Regions from separate parts of the Homo sapiens genome. Here region 1 is linked to region 2. A link means that fine-mapping ties the variant in region 2 to the expression of a gene that starts in the linked region. Tissue or cell type: whole blood. Region 2 holds a variant in brackets; the other region holds the start of a gene. All regions are shown on one strand. Distances are between the middles of the regions.

Region 1 (8,000 bases), 120 kb after region 2:
AAGGCCAAATTGGGTCGGGGGAGGGTGGGAGTGAGGAAGTTAAAATCACTATAGGGAGAAAAAACTTTTTTCAAGATTTCCAAAGAGATGAAATTTTCTTAATCCTTTTAAGTTTTCATAGTAAACAGTATGGCAGATTGGGTTGGTTGTCCTACCTGGTCTATTTTTAAAAGTCACCTTTTAAAGTGACATTATTAGATACACTTAAATGTTTCCAAGGCACTCTCTACATTACCCTTGTTTTTCTCTTTGGATACTGTCCTGGGACTAAGTGTAGATTTCTGCTTCAAGCACTTCTGGCATTGTGTGTTTTTGTATGCACTCCCCTTCATGCCACTTCAGATGTTTATTTGGATGTGGTTGGGGACGAGAGCAGACACCAAGGAAAGGGAGTTGGAGAGAATGTAAGTCCTGACCTGAAGGTCTTTTGTGATGCATGTATAGGATTGCCCTGACACACACCCTCCTTTCTTGGGATTATACCAGCCATCTTCCTGAGAGTTTTGGAGCCCTCTAGGATATTTTTTCTAGTACCCCACCCCCCACCCCTAAAGAAAGACCTTAATATGTTAAAACAGCATTGCTTGGAGAAGGTGTCATTGAATTCCGGGACGAGCCGGAGCCTTTAAATGGGTGCTTCCACCACTACAGGCTCCTGACACGAGTAACAGGCACTGTTGCTTAGAAGAACACACGAAGTTGCCGAACACAGGGTAAAATTTCCAAGGCGCTGATCGTTGCCCTGGCCAGGGCCTGATGAGAGCCAGTCAGTACATTCTTTTTTTCCTACAGTTCTTGGGTTTCAAACTTCAGTTTCAGGGAATTTCAAGTCAACAACAGGTAGAATGAATAAACTTGGTTACCAGCCTAATAATGTGAATTGCTACAGAATTATTCTTATTATGTAAGAAAACAAAAACTTTATGCAGATACTTTAGCTATAAATTGATGTAAAATACTGATTTTTTTAAAGGAAGGAGAGAACAGTATCTTGTTCAATTATTATGCAATCAATCAGTAAATGTTTTTAAAATGATACTACAGGAGAGCTTAGTAAGGAGAGGGCATGGATGGGCCAGTTTGGCATAGTTGGGAGAAATCAGTCTGGTTTCCATCCCAGTCGGGGAAGAGAGAGGTGAGAGGGAATCAGAACGTACCTAGTTGATTCCTTGGTGACAAGTGCAATGGGGTATGGGTAGAATTTATTTTCAGAGCCAAGAGGACTTGATGGTTATAAATAAAGTTGCCTTTAGCAATGGAATTTACAGATCGATCATGTTGTTCCGAAAGATGTGAATAGGATCCACAATAACAAGTTGATTCAGACTAATGTAGATATTTAGATTAGCAAGTATTGAACATTTGATTTCTTAGACTGAGGTTTTAAATGAATTTCATTATTTCTCCCGGTAATACACAGAGCATCGGGATTAGGAAATTAGCCATTTTGGATTCTGTCTGCCACAAACAGACCTATTCTAAACAGTGCTATTAAATTTTAGACTGTTGTTCAAATATTTTATTTTCTCCTAAACTACTTTTTATGGTGATGAATAATTAAGACCATTTAAAACACGGGAGTACAAGTATTTTTTTGAATTAAATTAACTTGCAAAAACCAAATTTGCAGTGGTTGGGTTGTTTCTAGACAGACTTTGGTATCAATTTAAAACCAAGATAATTTTTATATTCTTTCCAATAGAATTTCATGACAACTCCTGCAGTTTTCTTAACCTACAAAAAAAAAAAAAAAGTGCTGCAATGATGAACAAAGAATTATACAAAACCTACTTTTGTATCTTTATTTTGGAATTTCTTGTTCTATTATAAATATGGAAGTATCCCTATTTCAGAAGACATATTTTGTTAAAAATGAATTGTACATATTTAAATATGTATTTTTGCACAGGTCTTTTTTTCTGATATCCTGTTTTGGTACAATTGAGATCATCTAGTATTTATTTATTAATTAATAAAAGTAAATACCTTTTTATAATTTGAAGTGGTTCACTGCCAAGCCAATAGTTCTAGAACCTGCCTCCTTTACAGTTTTAAGGGATGCCTCTGTTCTGTGAAAAGTCTTTGTCCCTTTTAGTGTCTCGGGAGTGGATTCATACAGATGAAGTGGGCATTGCTTCTTCCTGGTTGCCTGGTTTCCCGATAGACTACATGTAACTAAGTGACACACTGCTTTTCTTTTGTTAGTATTTTATGTGTGGGAGTATGTGACTGCGTGTGTGTGTGCCTGTGCGTGTGTGTGTATACTCAGCACATGTATGTTACTATGTGATGTGGTTTAAAACTAATGGAAAAAACTGAAAGTGCCTGAAACTAGTTTTAAGCTTAGACAGAATCTCTTTAAAAAGACTTGAATGTTCAGTTGAACTTTTGGAGTTTGCTTTTTCCACCTAAATATTGTTTCTAAAATTTTAGGGGCGGAGTTGAAAACCACCAATGCTGGTAATTTTATAAGGTATTTTAAAATTAAGACCTCTTGGTTCATAGTAATTCAATTGGTGATGGATTGCCTGGTGGCACCAAGGGTTACAGATCTTTTTGTCAGCCAGCAACTTACACGATGTGTCCGTTTTGTTATTCACTCATGAAATACAATTTAAAATATTTAAAATATTTTGTATTCCAAAAATATAATACAAAGAAGTACCTCTGAGAACATTGAAAAAAATGTATAATTTGAAAAATGTAACTTATAAGGGCAGCTGTCTTCCTGCAAGAGTTCTGTTGCCAAGGAATTTCTTAATGTCGCTCATTCTGTCCAGGGGGTTTGGGGCGATTGGGCTTTGAAAAAATATTCTTAAAAGTTTGTTTAGCAGAAAATAATCACTTTTACATTTTGTGCAAAACATTTTACATTTTCAGATAATTTAAATGAGCACTACATACTGTCAGTGTGAATGTAGGGCCTTGAAAGCATTTTGCTTTTTTTTTTTTTTTTTTTTTTTTGAGCTTGGTTATAAAAGCAATCTCCTGTGTTAAAAACGTGTGAATAGTTTGATAATTTGTACACATAATCAAGAGCATCTCAGCTGGACTTTGTGTTGGCTGCTGTATAGAACATGAACAAATGTCAAGGGATAGAAAATTACTTTGGATATTTAAAAGAGAAGAAATATATAGTCTATTTGTTTTGTAACAAGTTTCTGTAAATAAAATAATTTATACTATTTATAAGAAAAGGTTGTGCTTTGCTTTATAAGAAATTAGCTTGTGGAACAAACATGTTACTAAACGGGCAATAAAATTAGGACTTCTCAATAAATAAGGTTGGCTGCATGAAATATTGTACGTTTCTGCCTCGTTGTGATACTAAACCCTTTCAGTCTACTCTGACTTTTCATCACTTTTGGCATGGAACACCCTTGTGAAGCCCCTTCAATTTAGCCTTCCTCTTATATAAGCTAAATACTTCTAAGGCCTGGGGATGTTTCCATCTGGGGGCACAAAGCTTTGCTTTGGATAAATTAGTAACTGTGTAAACAGTGAACATTACTGTATTCTGGCCTTGCATGTTTGTGAAAGAAACGAGGGAGTTGATGGATTGAGAAACACATTCTATTTGTACTTAGGTGCAAATTTGATGACATGTAGTTTTGGTTTAAGATAAGCTTTTTATCCAGACCCGGTCTAATCTCTTCCTTTCTTTTACATACCTCCCTTACTGGCAATACAAGTGCATTTTAGTATTATTTGGAACACAGCATAATCATTTACCTCTAGAAATCCAGACATTTTTACTGTTTGCAAATAAACCATTCTGATAAATTATTTTTGTTGCTTAAAATAAGAGGAGGAACCGCTGTGTGTTAGCAAGAATGTCCATACCTGATATGAAAGAGTCATGTTGGCTTCAGTTCCTACTGCCCTGTGGACTTCCCATTCCCTCCTTACTTGAGTCAACCATCCACTCAGTACTTTCCACAAATCTAATAATGAGGTGCTCTCTGTAGGTAAATCCTTTCACTATGGCTTGTCCTCAAACCTCCCAAGAAAAGGTTCAACTGCTCAATCTCTTAACCTTTTTAATTCCATTCCCTTGCAGGTATCCCGGCCCTGCATAACAAGATGATCCCAACTCAAGGAAAGGGGTTTAGCAGTGTTGGATCTTGGCGTATGTGGGATTTAACCAGGCAGAAAGGCAGACAAGAGTAAGATTCTAGGCAGAGAGAGCAAATGCGTCGAGCATGGGTATGAACATGTGAGGGATAGAGAATAATTCTGCAGGAAGTTTGCTGGATGGAAGGGCCTTATAGGGTTAGAAAAGCTGGTGTCAGATTGTCAAGGACTTTGAATGTCATGGGGCTTCTCTTCCAGGAACACATGGGATCAGGCTTAGATTAACCCAAATGTAATTGTCAGAGCCCAGAGATATTTCATGGTCCAGTCCTAGCACTGTGCAGCTGCCAAAAGTCAAAGCCATTCAAATCTGTACTGAAAACTGTGGAAAAGCAAAGGAGCACTTAAGTCTCTTTCCCCATGTCTTGCATTCTCACTCTCTTTTGCTTCAAAGATCTGTCTTTACCTGCCCCTGTCCCCAGTCCTAACAAAAAGCACTCCCCTAAATCAACTCTTAAGTTCCTCTCCCTTCTCACTCCTTTCTTAGTCTCCTCTTTCTGTAAGAAGTTCTTGCTCCTGTTGTTAATGGAAGTTAATTAAAGTAGTATTTCACCTTGTAAGGCTGTAATTCTTGGCACTTGTTATCCTCATTTTCTACATCCAAAGACCATGGACCAGAATATCTCTTAGGAGGTAAGGGAGAGTGAGGCTATCAGCCAAAGAAAAAGTCTCCAGGGGGAAGGGGAGAATCACTTATAATTTAATACTTTGTGGAAAAAACATCTCTGCCACCTATGGCCCTCCAATAACAATGGAAGACAGAATCAACAGGTGAGAACCTTGGGACAAAAATAAGTTACAAAGCTGTTGTAATCCAGGTAAGAGCTATTAAGTTTCCAAACGAAGGCTGACTGTGAGGATAAGTGATACTGATTTCAGAAATCTTTAAAAAGTAGAACCAACAAGCCTTGAGGTCTAACTCTGTTCAACATTAAAGGGAAGAGTGAGTCTAAGAAGACTTCAGGTTTCTAGCTTGGCCAAACCAATTGAGCTTTAAGTGAAATGTGCGATATGGTAACAGAGAAGGAAAAAGACATAACGATAGATTTGAGCTGCTGGTGGGAAATTCTGGTTTAGTGCCCAGCTGGCTGTACAGGCTGGTTGGACTTTAGGAGGGAGGTTTGAGCTGGAAAATAAAGATGGAGAGTTGTCTTTCAGTTTTAGATCATCAGTGAGGTCATAAGGGTAGATGGAGTTTACCTGGGAAAATTAAGTAGCTATTCGATTTGGCTTATTATTATGTTAAAATAATACTTCTCTAGTGAAGTACTTAATATGCCAGATACTGTGCCAAGCATTTTATATACATCCTCTCTTTTACTAAGCCCTCATAGGGCAGGTATTTTGATTCCAATCATACTGATTGGAACTCCTAAGAAGGTATCTTGCTTAAGGTCCCACAACGAATAGGTGGCAGATCCAGGGTAATTCAGGTCTGTCAGAACAGTGATTCTTAATTTTTTCCCTCCTCAGACTCCAGGAGTCACATGAAGTTATGCATCCTGTCTGACCGAGGCACAGGCACACCACATTTTTATATTCCGCTTCCAGGATATCACAAACCTGAAGCCCATCCTCCATGGCCCAGAGAGAAAACCCAGGACAAAACCTTGGAGAAGACTATTTTCATGAAGACAAATGGAGAAGGAGCAGTAGAGTAAAAAGAGAGGTAAGGGAAGGCATTGAGATGGTTTACAGGGTTAGATGTTTTGAGTCAATCCCATTATAATTACCAATGCTATCTACCTATTTAGTTAACGTTTTATTGCCCTGCTGTTTTCTCCAGGATAATTGGAACAGCATGTATTGGTTGGGTGGAAAAGATAGAACTTGAGCAGGGAGATTGCCAAAGAGTGAAGATGTGGCTGAGTGATTGATGATGGTCTGAACTGGGTATTCAGGGAAGAGAACTAGAAGCCAACCATGTAGAATCTATGCAGGTGCTCTTAAGACATTGGTTTGACTGGAATTATCTTCTTGTTAGGTCTTAGGAATCTCCTTCCAGGTAACTTTTTCTATGATTAGACAATTGATTTGTTCAGGGTCACAGAGCAAAGTCCACATTTAATTCCACATGGCCAATAAAAGTGAGGGGCTACAAGGTGAGATCCAGGGGCCAGAGTTATCAAAGTGATACAGCACTTTTAGGAATAGGACAGGGAATGGAGGAATTGGAATTCCAGTATTACTTTCAAAAGCAGAACTGGCCAGAGGAATTGGAATTCCAGTATTATTTTCAAAAGCAGAACTGGCCAGAGGTGCTTGTGATTCCTGGGTGGAAACCATGGCAGTGGACAGAAGCAGCATGGAGGAAAAGAGCACTGGAATTCAGGCTGAGGAACTGTGAAGCCAAGGGTGTTGTATAGGTTGTCCATTTCAAATTAGGGTTGCTTGGTTCTGGGATGATTTGCATGGAAGAGGGGAGAGTGACTTGGAGATGTGTGATTGAGGACAGTGAGCACAGTGAGTTGATGGTGTTGCTGGGTTATAAGCAGCTTCAAAGAGAAGGCATTTTGAATGAAGGTGGAAACATAATGGCCAGGAGAACAAGCAAAGGACTAGGAAACAGTGAACTTCATCTTGGCCTCAAGTTCCTGAGGTGCATATGAATAAACAGTCTCTAACCCAGAGGGTTTCAAGAAAAGCAGAGTCCTCAAAATCCAAAGGTAGAGTTTCCCCACATTGATATTATACTAATTACACGTATAACAGTACTTTGGAAAAGCACAGGTCTCTGGTCACCTCTAAAAGGCAAGGTTGGTAAGGAGGTCAGGGTGTCACCTGTTGGTAGTCTTAACTAAATGGTCTCTTCAAGGGATCTAAGGATGGAAAGGGGATATATAATGGTTGGATTAAAGGCTCATCATTGATTAGCAAATTGTCCCTTTTGTTTCTTAAACCCAATTTGTACAGGGAAAGTTATGCCACTGTAAGATATTTTTAAATGGGGAAAAAAAAAAAAAAAAAAAAAAGGTTATACCCTTTGACCATGTATGTCAAGGTTAAAATGGCCTGGATCAGATTGCTACAAATTCCTGATAGCCTTTGTATTCCTTCAGAAACACAAGCATAATGCAAATCTGTGGCTCTACAGCTTTGAAACCAAAACTAGTGATTATCAGAGCTTTTCATGTTATCCAGATGGGGATTTTACCCCACTCCCCCATTGCCATTGTGGAGGCACAGGTTTGTTACCAGCAACTACAAGTTTATGTAGCATTGGGAAGGTCAGGGATTATCATAGTTCCCTCCACGCTTTTTCCCCCATAATCATGGGGGCAGATATTTCAGCTGTCAGCTGTTCATCTTAAAAACATTAGGTTAACAGCAGCACCAAGGACTAATTCAGAATATGAAATTACAGAAATGATTTGCTAATGATTTAGTAGCCTTTTATCAGTTAATGTTTGGTCAGGTTATAAAAGACCAAATGTGTTCAGTCACAAAATCCTAAGTGTATTGAGTATTGCATGCTTAGTGATCAAGTTGTAGGCATCCTTCTAGCCATCTGGGGCAGGTAAAAGTTGGGTGCTTAACAAAAGTGGTTTTTACACTGTTTCTGTCCTAAGAGACACTGTTTTTTAATAGCTTAAAAATTGACCTAAAGCTGTTATTTCTAATACAGGAAATAGATTACCATAATTTGACATAGCTTTAAAATATTTAGCTCTTACTCGATAGATTTGCTATAAAATCAACTTTTACTGAGGTAAGAGAAACTGGCATTTCTGCTTTAAAAATAATCACAAAAGATAGTTTATCCTGGCGATATCATTTCACACTAGGATAGTTACTTTTGACTGAAACCAGGGTTAAAAATAAGATTGTTTCCCACTTCAAAAGAAAACATTTACCAACATGAAAAA
Region 2 (8,596 bases):
CATGTGAACTATTGATTATGACTCAGTTCTATCTTTTAATATAAATAGCCCAAAGAGTTACCCTACTCTTATCAGAGAAATTAAATATTCAAAGAGAGAATCTGAACAGTTCTCAGAAGAATTGGAAAATCACTGAAAGACCTTCTGTTGGGGCATTTTGTTCTTGGTTAAAATTAAACTAACATTTAAAAAATATGCATATGAACTGTACAAGTGATTTATCTTAAAATATAAAACTTGTACTTTTAATGACACATTGCTGAAATGTGTTTTTTATTATTAAGGTTAAGGTGCAAAAGGAAAGTGCAACTTAAGTCCTTATGGATTATCTCTTCAGTTTTTTTTTTTTTTTTTTTAAATAGAGTCTTGCTCTGTCACCCAGGCTAAATGAAGTACAGTGGCGCGATCTCGGCTCACTGCAACCTCTGCCTCCTGGGTTCAAGCGATTCTCCTGCCTCAGCCTCCCGAGTAGCTGGGATTACAGGCGTGTGCCACCATACCCAGCTAATGTTTGTATTTTTAGTAGAGACGGGGTTTCACTATGTTGGCCAAGCTAGTCTCGAACTCCGGACCTCAGGTGATCTTTATAAGGCAGAGTGAATTAGCAAAAAGATTCTTATTCCACCGATCTAGAAATACAAGAACAGATGTGGCCAGTCGCGGTGGCTCATGTCTGTAATCCTAGCACTTTGGGAGGCCGAGGCAGGTGGATCACGAGGTCAGGAGATCAAGACCATCCTGGATAACATGGTGAAACCCCATCTCTACTAAAAAAAATACAAAAAATTAGCCGGGTGTGGTGGCACGTGCCTGTAATCCCTGCTACTCGGGAGGCTGAGGCAAGAGAATTGCTTGAACCCGGGAAGCAAAGGTTGCGGTGAGCTGAGATCGCGCCACTGCACTCTATCCTGGGCAACAGAGCAAGACTCCGTATCAAAAAAGAAAAAAAGAACAGATTTTTAGCTTATCAAAAGAGAGTCTGTTTTAGTCCATAACTTTATTGAGTTTTGAGGTTTGAGAAATGGGAAGATGAATATTTACTCTGTAAATATGAATGGTGAAAAGAGGTCCACACTTACCTATAATAATTGGTGCTTTAATAAAAGCATCAGCTGTGGGACTAAAAAAGAGGGAAAAGTGATGTAGTCTGTCTTTATCAGAGATTCTTTTAGACAGGTCACAAATATTTATCAAAAGTCTACAGTTGCCGTGTCCTAGAAGTACAGATGAAAAAAGTGCCAGATAGCCCTGACTCAAGGAGTTGGTGTCAGAGTGAGCCTTTCATTGCTGTTTCCTTAAGGGCAGCCAGTCTTTTGGTGCCTTTCCATTGCCTAGAGGAAGGATGATATCCAAAACTTTGAACAGATCTTTCAGTGGTCCTCTGATCTGGCCCTGCCTGCATCTTCTGTCTCACCAAGTGCTCTGGCTTTTTAGTTCCTTGAACTTGCTGTTCTTCCTCAATGTCTTTTCTACTGAGATTTCATTTGTCTGGGGTGCTTGCTGCCACCCTCATCTCCCTCATACCTTTTTGCCTCCTTTAAATGCCACCTCTTCACAGAAGCCTTCCCTGACCTTCTAGACAAAATTCAGTGACTTTGTTACTTGCTTTAAAACCCTGTGTATTCAGACACGCCGCCCTTCTCATTCAAAGCACTCTTTCAATTTATTTGTGTAAAGGTTTTATGGCTTTCTTTCCTACTAGAAGTAAACACCATGAGAACAGCGTTCATTGCTGTCTGTTTCACAGCTGTCTCCTCAGTGCTGAGCATGGCGCTCAATAGATACTTGCAAAAAAGGGAAAAAGAACTGCTTTCAACCCAACCCCTACTACTCACCAGTTGTGTGACCTTTAGTGGTTTGCTTCTTGGAGTCGCAATTTGTTATCTGTAGAATGGGAATAATGATGATAATGGCTATCATTTATTGAGCAGTTAGTATGTGCCAGACTGTGCTTTACTTGCATTATCTTTTCAGTTAAACCCCATCAGAGAAGTGAAAAGATTTGCTTGAGGTCACATAGTTTGAAAATAGAAAACAGGATTTAAACTCTGGTCTGTTTAATTCAAAAAAATGGATTACTCTTAGCCATGCCTTTTTGTGATTGAGTAGTACCAATGCTGAGAATGCTGAGGTTGAGGAGGGAGTAGGTTTGGAATCTCCTAAACCATTTTAGGGAATCGGTATGGGATTAACTCTGCCTATTTGAAGAGATAAGTGACCTCTAAACTGATTTCTGAAGAAGTTAGTTGGGTCTAGAAGCAGCCAGAAGTGCAAATACTCTAAGAGAACTTTTCAGTGTGCTGGAAACTGGCCTTGTTCATTGTGGTTGGAGCATTTTTTTTTTTTTTTTTTTTTTGAGACGGAGTCTCGCTCTGTCGCCTGGGCTGGTGTGCAGTGGTGCAATCTCAGCTCACTGCGACCTCTGCCTCCTGGGTTCAAATGATTCTCCTGCCTCAGCCTCCTGAGAAGCTGGGATTATAGGTGCCCACCACTATGCCCAGCTAATTTTTTGTATTTTTAGTAGAGACAGGGTTTCACCATGTTGGTCGGGCTGGTCTTGAACTCCTGACTTCGTGATTTGCCCGCCTTGGCGTCCCAGAGTGTTGGGATTACAGGCGTGAGCCACTGCACCCAGCCGCTTGATTGGAGCATTCTACAGGGCTAAGAACTATAAGGTTGGGCCAGAGAGTAAAGTAAAGGGGCTTACCGGCTGCTGGGCCAGGCTAGGCCAGGGAGTTACTTTCTGCTAAACACTGTGGGGAGTCCTTGATGGATTTTATTTGTTGAAAATACTTTGGAAGCAGGAAGTCCCAATTTGGAGTCCATCTTGGGGGCAGAAGTATCCAAAGCCCTTCTCTCAGTTTGCATCTCTAGCAAAGAACACATTTTAACTAATAATTTCATTCTGCTGCACCCAGTGTGACAGTGTTTGAAAAGGAACCAGCATTGTGAGGTGAGGAATGGATTTTTATGTTTAGTTGCAGCAGTATAATTTTGCTGCTGCTGTTACTGTTTTCCTTTGGGGACAGATTCCCTAACCCAGATGGATGGCAACCTTACACAAGTTACTTCACCTCTCTAGCCTGTTTCTCATCTGGAAATTAGAGATAGTTAAAATATCTATCTTGTCAGCTTGTCGTGCAACATTTACACAGTGCATGGTATAAAATGAACTTTTAGGCAACATTAACGGTTATTGTTTTTAATATGACCTATCCATTCTGGCCTTTGATTCTTTTTTTTTTTTTTTTTTGGGTCGGAGTCTTCTCTGTCACCCAGGCTGGAGTGCAGTGGCACAATCTTGGCTCACTGCAACCTCCGCCTCACAGGTTCAAGCAATTCTCGTGTCTCAGTCTCGCAAGTAGTTGGGAATGTAGACATGTGCCACCATGCCCAGCTAATTTTTTTTTATTTTTAGTAGAGACCGATTTCACCATGTTGGCCGGGCTGATCTTGAATGGCTGTCTTAAGGTAATTCACCTGCCTTGGCCTCCCAAAGTGCTGGGATTACAGGTGTGAGCCACCAAACTTGACCTCTGGCCTCTTAAATGAATATGTGTTGTTTATTTATCAGACAGGTTGATTGGGACATAGGTGCTGACATTTTTAAAGATCATGATTTTAGGATCTTAGAAAGTAAAACTGGCAATTAAAAAAGGCAACGAACACCTTAGTGAGGCAGTTTTGGTGTTTCCTAGATGTGTTTAGGATGAACACATAGATGAAATGCATAATATGAACATGAGCCAGTACTTAAAGAGCTCGTGGTGTGTGCCAGGAGTGTGTTTTCCATGCATTCTTCCTGAGAAGTAGGTTTGATTATACAGTATCTATTTTACAGATAAAGGTTGAGGTCTTTTCTTTCTAAGGTGTTATTAGACAGCTATAGACATGGACACCAAAACTTGTTGAGCCTTCAGCATTGTAAAGGCTTGGCTTACCTTCCATCAACCTCAGCAGTTCTGCTGGAAGGGAAAAATGGAAACAGGGCCCTTAATTTTTTCTCATTATTGGATTAATTGGAAGCACTAGGCATGGTGTGCTGCCTGGTGGATAGTAGAGGCTCAGTAAATGTTT[A/C]TTGAATATAAATCTGAATCAGACCAAGTGAAAAAAAGATAGAGAAAAGCAGTATTAGATCCTGGCCCCAGACTTTAAAAAAGTCTGAGGTCACCAGAGATTTTATTAGCATAGTCCATTTGTTAATATTGCAGGTTAATGGTTGGTTGAAGGCTGAGGTGAAGAATTGTCCAGTGTGTGTTGCATGGGATTAACTCCAGTCTGGGCAATTTAGTTATCTCTAGAAATCTGTTCACTTCCCACTAGGTACCCCTGCTGCTCAAGAAGCTCCAGGCTCTGTGTTTGTGTTCAGCTGATTCATTTATTCCCAATTAAAAAAAAAAACAAACTAGTTGTAACATTAAAATATGCAAATAAGATAGGTGTGACTATCCTAAATAATCCTATGTAACTATTCTATTTAAACATAAATAGGAAGGTATAACTGCCATAAGTCATCACGAGTGTATTTCAAAGCCAGATCTGATTGATATTTCTGTTTACCCTTAGCTCAGGTAATTAAGAGTTGACACCAAGGAAGTATCATTTAGTATTAAGGGGAGAAAATAGGATACCTTATTGCATAGAATAGCAAACAAGTAGCATTTAATTCTAGATTTCTTCTTGTTTCCCCCAACAACAGAAAAAAAAATATTTTTTTCTCCTGGGGGAGGTTGATTAGGATATTTATTTACCCTGTCAAACCTGAAAGTCAGATGGTAGCCTGATTACCAAGCTTGATTGATTACCAAGCATCCTTTTTGTGATTTATTATTTTATGCCACAAAAGGAAGATACTTGAAGAGATAATTTTGTTCATTTACTATAGAAGTAGTTCATGTAGAAATTTTAAAGTGTCAAACATTAAGACCCAGTGTCCAGATCTTGGTTTCTAATACCATTCTCCATTAAAAGGAGATTCTGTGCCTGAGACAGGGAATAAACAATATGAGCCTGTAGTATCTTCTAGCTCCAGAAAGTAAGAAAATAACATGCGCACACACACACACACACACACACACACACACACACACATACTCTCACACACACACACACTCATTCACTCTCTCTCTCTCCACACACAATGATGGGGTGTGTCAGAGGGACCAAAGAGACAACTGAAAGAGCTCCCAAAGGTCAAACCTAGAACAATTTGAGCAGCTAAAAAACATAGTATTAGATTGTAACCCAATATATAAAATAAATGTAAATAAAATATACAGTATATATATTTTTAAAGGCTCATATAAACATATAAACAAATAATATGTGATATAAAATCATAAATATCCATGAGGCCATACTGGTATAAATAAATGGTTGGATAAATAAGCAAATGGGAGAGAATAGATAAATCTTTAATATAAAAGAACTCCAAATGATTTATGCAGATAATCATCTCTCAAGGAGATGGAACATCACTGCCAATCTTTTTTTTTTTCTTTCTTATTTTTTTGGGGGGGATCAGGTTCTCCATCTGTCACCCAGGCTGGAGTGCAGTGGCACAATCTTAGCTCACTGCAACCTCTGTCTCTTGGGCTCAAGGGTGTCTTCCCACCTCAGCCTCCGAGTAGCTGGAACTACAGGTGTGTGCCACCATGCCCAGCTAATTTTTTTTTTTTTTGTATTTTTTATAGAGATGGGATTTTGCCATGTTGCCCAAGCTGGTCTTGAACTCCTGGGCTCAAGCGATTCACCTGCCTCAGCCTCCCAAAATGCTGGGATTACAGTTGTGAGCCACCACGCCCAGCCCACTGCCCATCTTTTAAGTCTGAGCTGTGCCTAGTGACTTCCTTCCAAAGAGTGCAATATGAAAAGGGAGGAAAGAGACAGCTTCCTGACATTGGCCTGGGCAGTGACTTTTTGGATATCACCCCAAAAGCACAGGTAACCAAAAAATAGAAAAATGGGGTTGCATCAAACTAAAACAGCTTCTGTATAACAAAGGAAATAGTCAACAGAGTGAAAAGACAATCAACACTATGGGAGAAAATATTTGCAAACCATATATCTGATAAGGGGTTGATATCTAAAATATATAAGGAACTCAATAACAAAACAGATAACCCAATTAAAAAAGGAGAAAGAAACTGAATTGACAAGACGTACAGATGGCCAACAGGTATATGAAAAGATGCTCAATATCACTAATCATCAGGGACATGCAAGTTAAAACCACAGTGAGATATCACCTCACTCCTGTTAGAATGGCTATTCAAAAAGACAGAAGATAACAAGTATTGGTTAGTATGTGGAGAAAAGGGAATCTTTGTACATTGGTAGTGGGGATGTAAATTATAGTACAGCCATTAAGAAAAACAGTATGGAGGTTTCTCAAAAAATTAAAAATAGAAAAGAACTATATGACCCATCAGTCCTACTTCTGCATATATATCCAAAGGAAATCAGTATGTCACAGAGGTATCTGCACTCCCATGTTCATTGCAGCATTATTCACAATAGCCAAGATATGGAGTCAATCTTGGTATCCATCAATGGATGAATGGATACAGAAAATGTGATATTTAGGCCAGGCACAGTGGCTCATGCCTGTAATCCCAGCACTTTGGGAGGCCAAGGTAGGTGAATCATTTGAGACCAGGAGTTCAACCTAGCCGGGCCAACATGGTGCAACCCCATTTCTACTAAAAATACAAAAAATTAGCAGGGCATGGTAGCATGCACCTGTAGTCCCAGCTACTTGAGAGGCTGAGCCAGGAGAATCGCTTCAACCTGGGAGGTGAAGTTTGCAGTGAGCTGGGATCACGCCACTATACTCCAGAGCGAGACTGGGTCTCAAACAAAAAAAGGAAAAGAAAATGTGATATCCAGTGTATATATGCAAATAATGTAAGACTGTTCAGCTTTAAAAAAGAAGGAAATCCTTTCATTTTTGACAACATGGGTGAACCTGGAGGATATTAAGTGAAATAAGCCAGACACAGAAAGACAAATACTGCAGGAATCTCACTTACATGTGGAATCTAAAAACATTGAACCACAGAAGCAGAGAGTAGAATAATGGTTGCCAGAGGCTGGGAGTTGGGGGAGTGGTGAGGGAAATGGGGAGATGTTGATCAAAGAGTACAAGTTTCAGTTAGGATGAATGAGTTCTAGGAATCTGTTACACAGTAATGGTGACTATAGTTAATAATACTGTATACTTGAAAATTGCTGAGAGTAGATCTTAAATGTTCTCACCCCCCAAAAGATGAGGTGACAGATATGCTCATTAGCTTGATTTAATTATTTTATAATATATACATAAAAGATCATATTTACACTGTACAATTTTGTCACTCATGCCTTAAAGCTGGAGGAAAATAAATAATCACATGTTGGTATTGGTTCATTAGCTGTGACAAAGATACTATACTTACATAAGAGGTTAACAATAGGGAAAACCAGGTGTCAGGTTTACAGGAACTCTCTGTATAATCTTTGCAACTTTTCTGTAAATTCAAAGTCATCCCAAAATTGAAAGTTTATTTTTAAAAAAGACTATGGCAAGGACAATAGTCTATAGTTCAAGTTTAATTTTCATCCCGTAGGGAGCCTGAGGTAAATAAAATAGTCCTTAGTGTTCTGGTCTTATTATGGTGTAAAGTGGGGCAGTTCTTCCTTGCTGTTGTCTTATAAAGCCATGACAGTTTGTTTGCAGAATCAGAGAATGCAGTATTTCTAAATGTCCTCCTGTGGAATTTCCTACTGGCATGACTTTTTTCCCCTTTGCTTCTGCCCAGTAGCAGTCCCTTGAGTGGCATTTGCTGTCCTAGTTAATCAGAGGGTAGGAGAAATGAAAAACTCTCATCTTCCCACTCCCATGAAGTTTCAATGGGCACTGGAAATGTAGGTCAAATTGCATCACCATAGAAAGGAGCGAACAGGAAGGTATTTATGAAGTGCTGCCAATGTCTCTTTAGATTCAGAGTCATGACGAACTGGTATTGAGCCCGTTAGGTGTGAGATACAGGGAATCAGGGGGCATGTTTGTGATGTAGTGCCAGAATGTTATATTTCAACCAGTGATAAAAGATCTCTGTCTGAAACCTAGTGGAAATGACTTACACTGGCTTTGTTTAATTTGCATCTCCCAGCTTCTGGAATTCTTTTTGTCTCTTATTTATTATTGGCACATTGCAAAAATTTGTATTAATTTAGCCAGAGAGATGTTTGAAGTGTAGAAACTATTGCCATGTATACATTTTAAGAAGTCTATTGTTTCGTAGTCACATAAGTCTAATAATATATTTTGGAAATTACGTATAAACATAAGCACAGTGACATCTTGATTAGCACATAGAAACCTCAAAATATTTTTTCATTTTTAAATTATGTTTAAAGTATCTGTTAGATGGATCTCTGTTTTATTATTTATTTTATTTTATTATTTTTTCTAGACAGGGTCTCACTCTGCCACCCAGGCTGGAGTATGGTAGCACTATCTCAGCTCACTGCAGCCTCAACCTCCCAGGCTCAAGTGATCCTCCCACCTCAGTCTCCCAAGTAGCAGGGACTACAGGCATGTGTCACCACACCC

The links. PIP is the estimated chance that this variant, and not a neighbour inherited with it, causes the effect.
Region 1: it holds the start of PSMD6-AS2, and the variant in region 2 is fine-mapped to the expression of PSMD6-AS2 in whole blood (TOPMed, PIP above 0.99).

The regions. Positions count from the first base shown.
Region 1 is chr3:64,000,266-64,008,265 of GRCh38, forward strand. PSMD6-AS2 (PSMD6 antisense RNA 2) reads left to right here and starts at 3,757. Exons shown (of 3, transcript NR_038286.1): 1 at 3,757-5,803. ATXN7 (ataxin 7) reads left to right here. Exons shown (of 13, transcript NM_001377405.1): 13 at 1-3,197. RefSeq lists an enhancer at 179-680.
Region 2 is chr3:63,879,151-63,887,746 of GRCh38, forward strand. All of the region lies in intron 1 of ATXN7 (ataxin 7), which reads left to right. Among named protein-coding and RNA genes, the nearest start is that of ATXN7, 20 kb to the left of the region's middle. The variant A/C (reference allele first, on the strand shown) is at 4,078.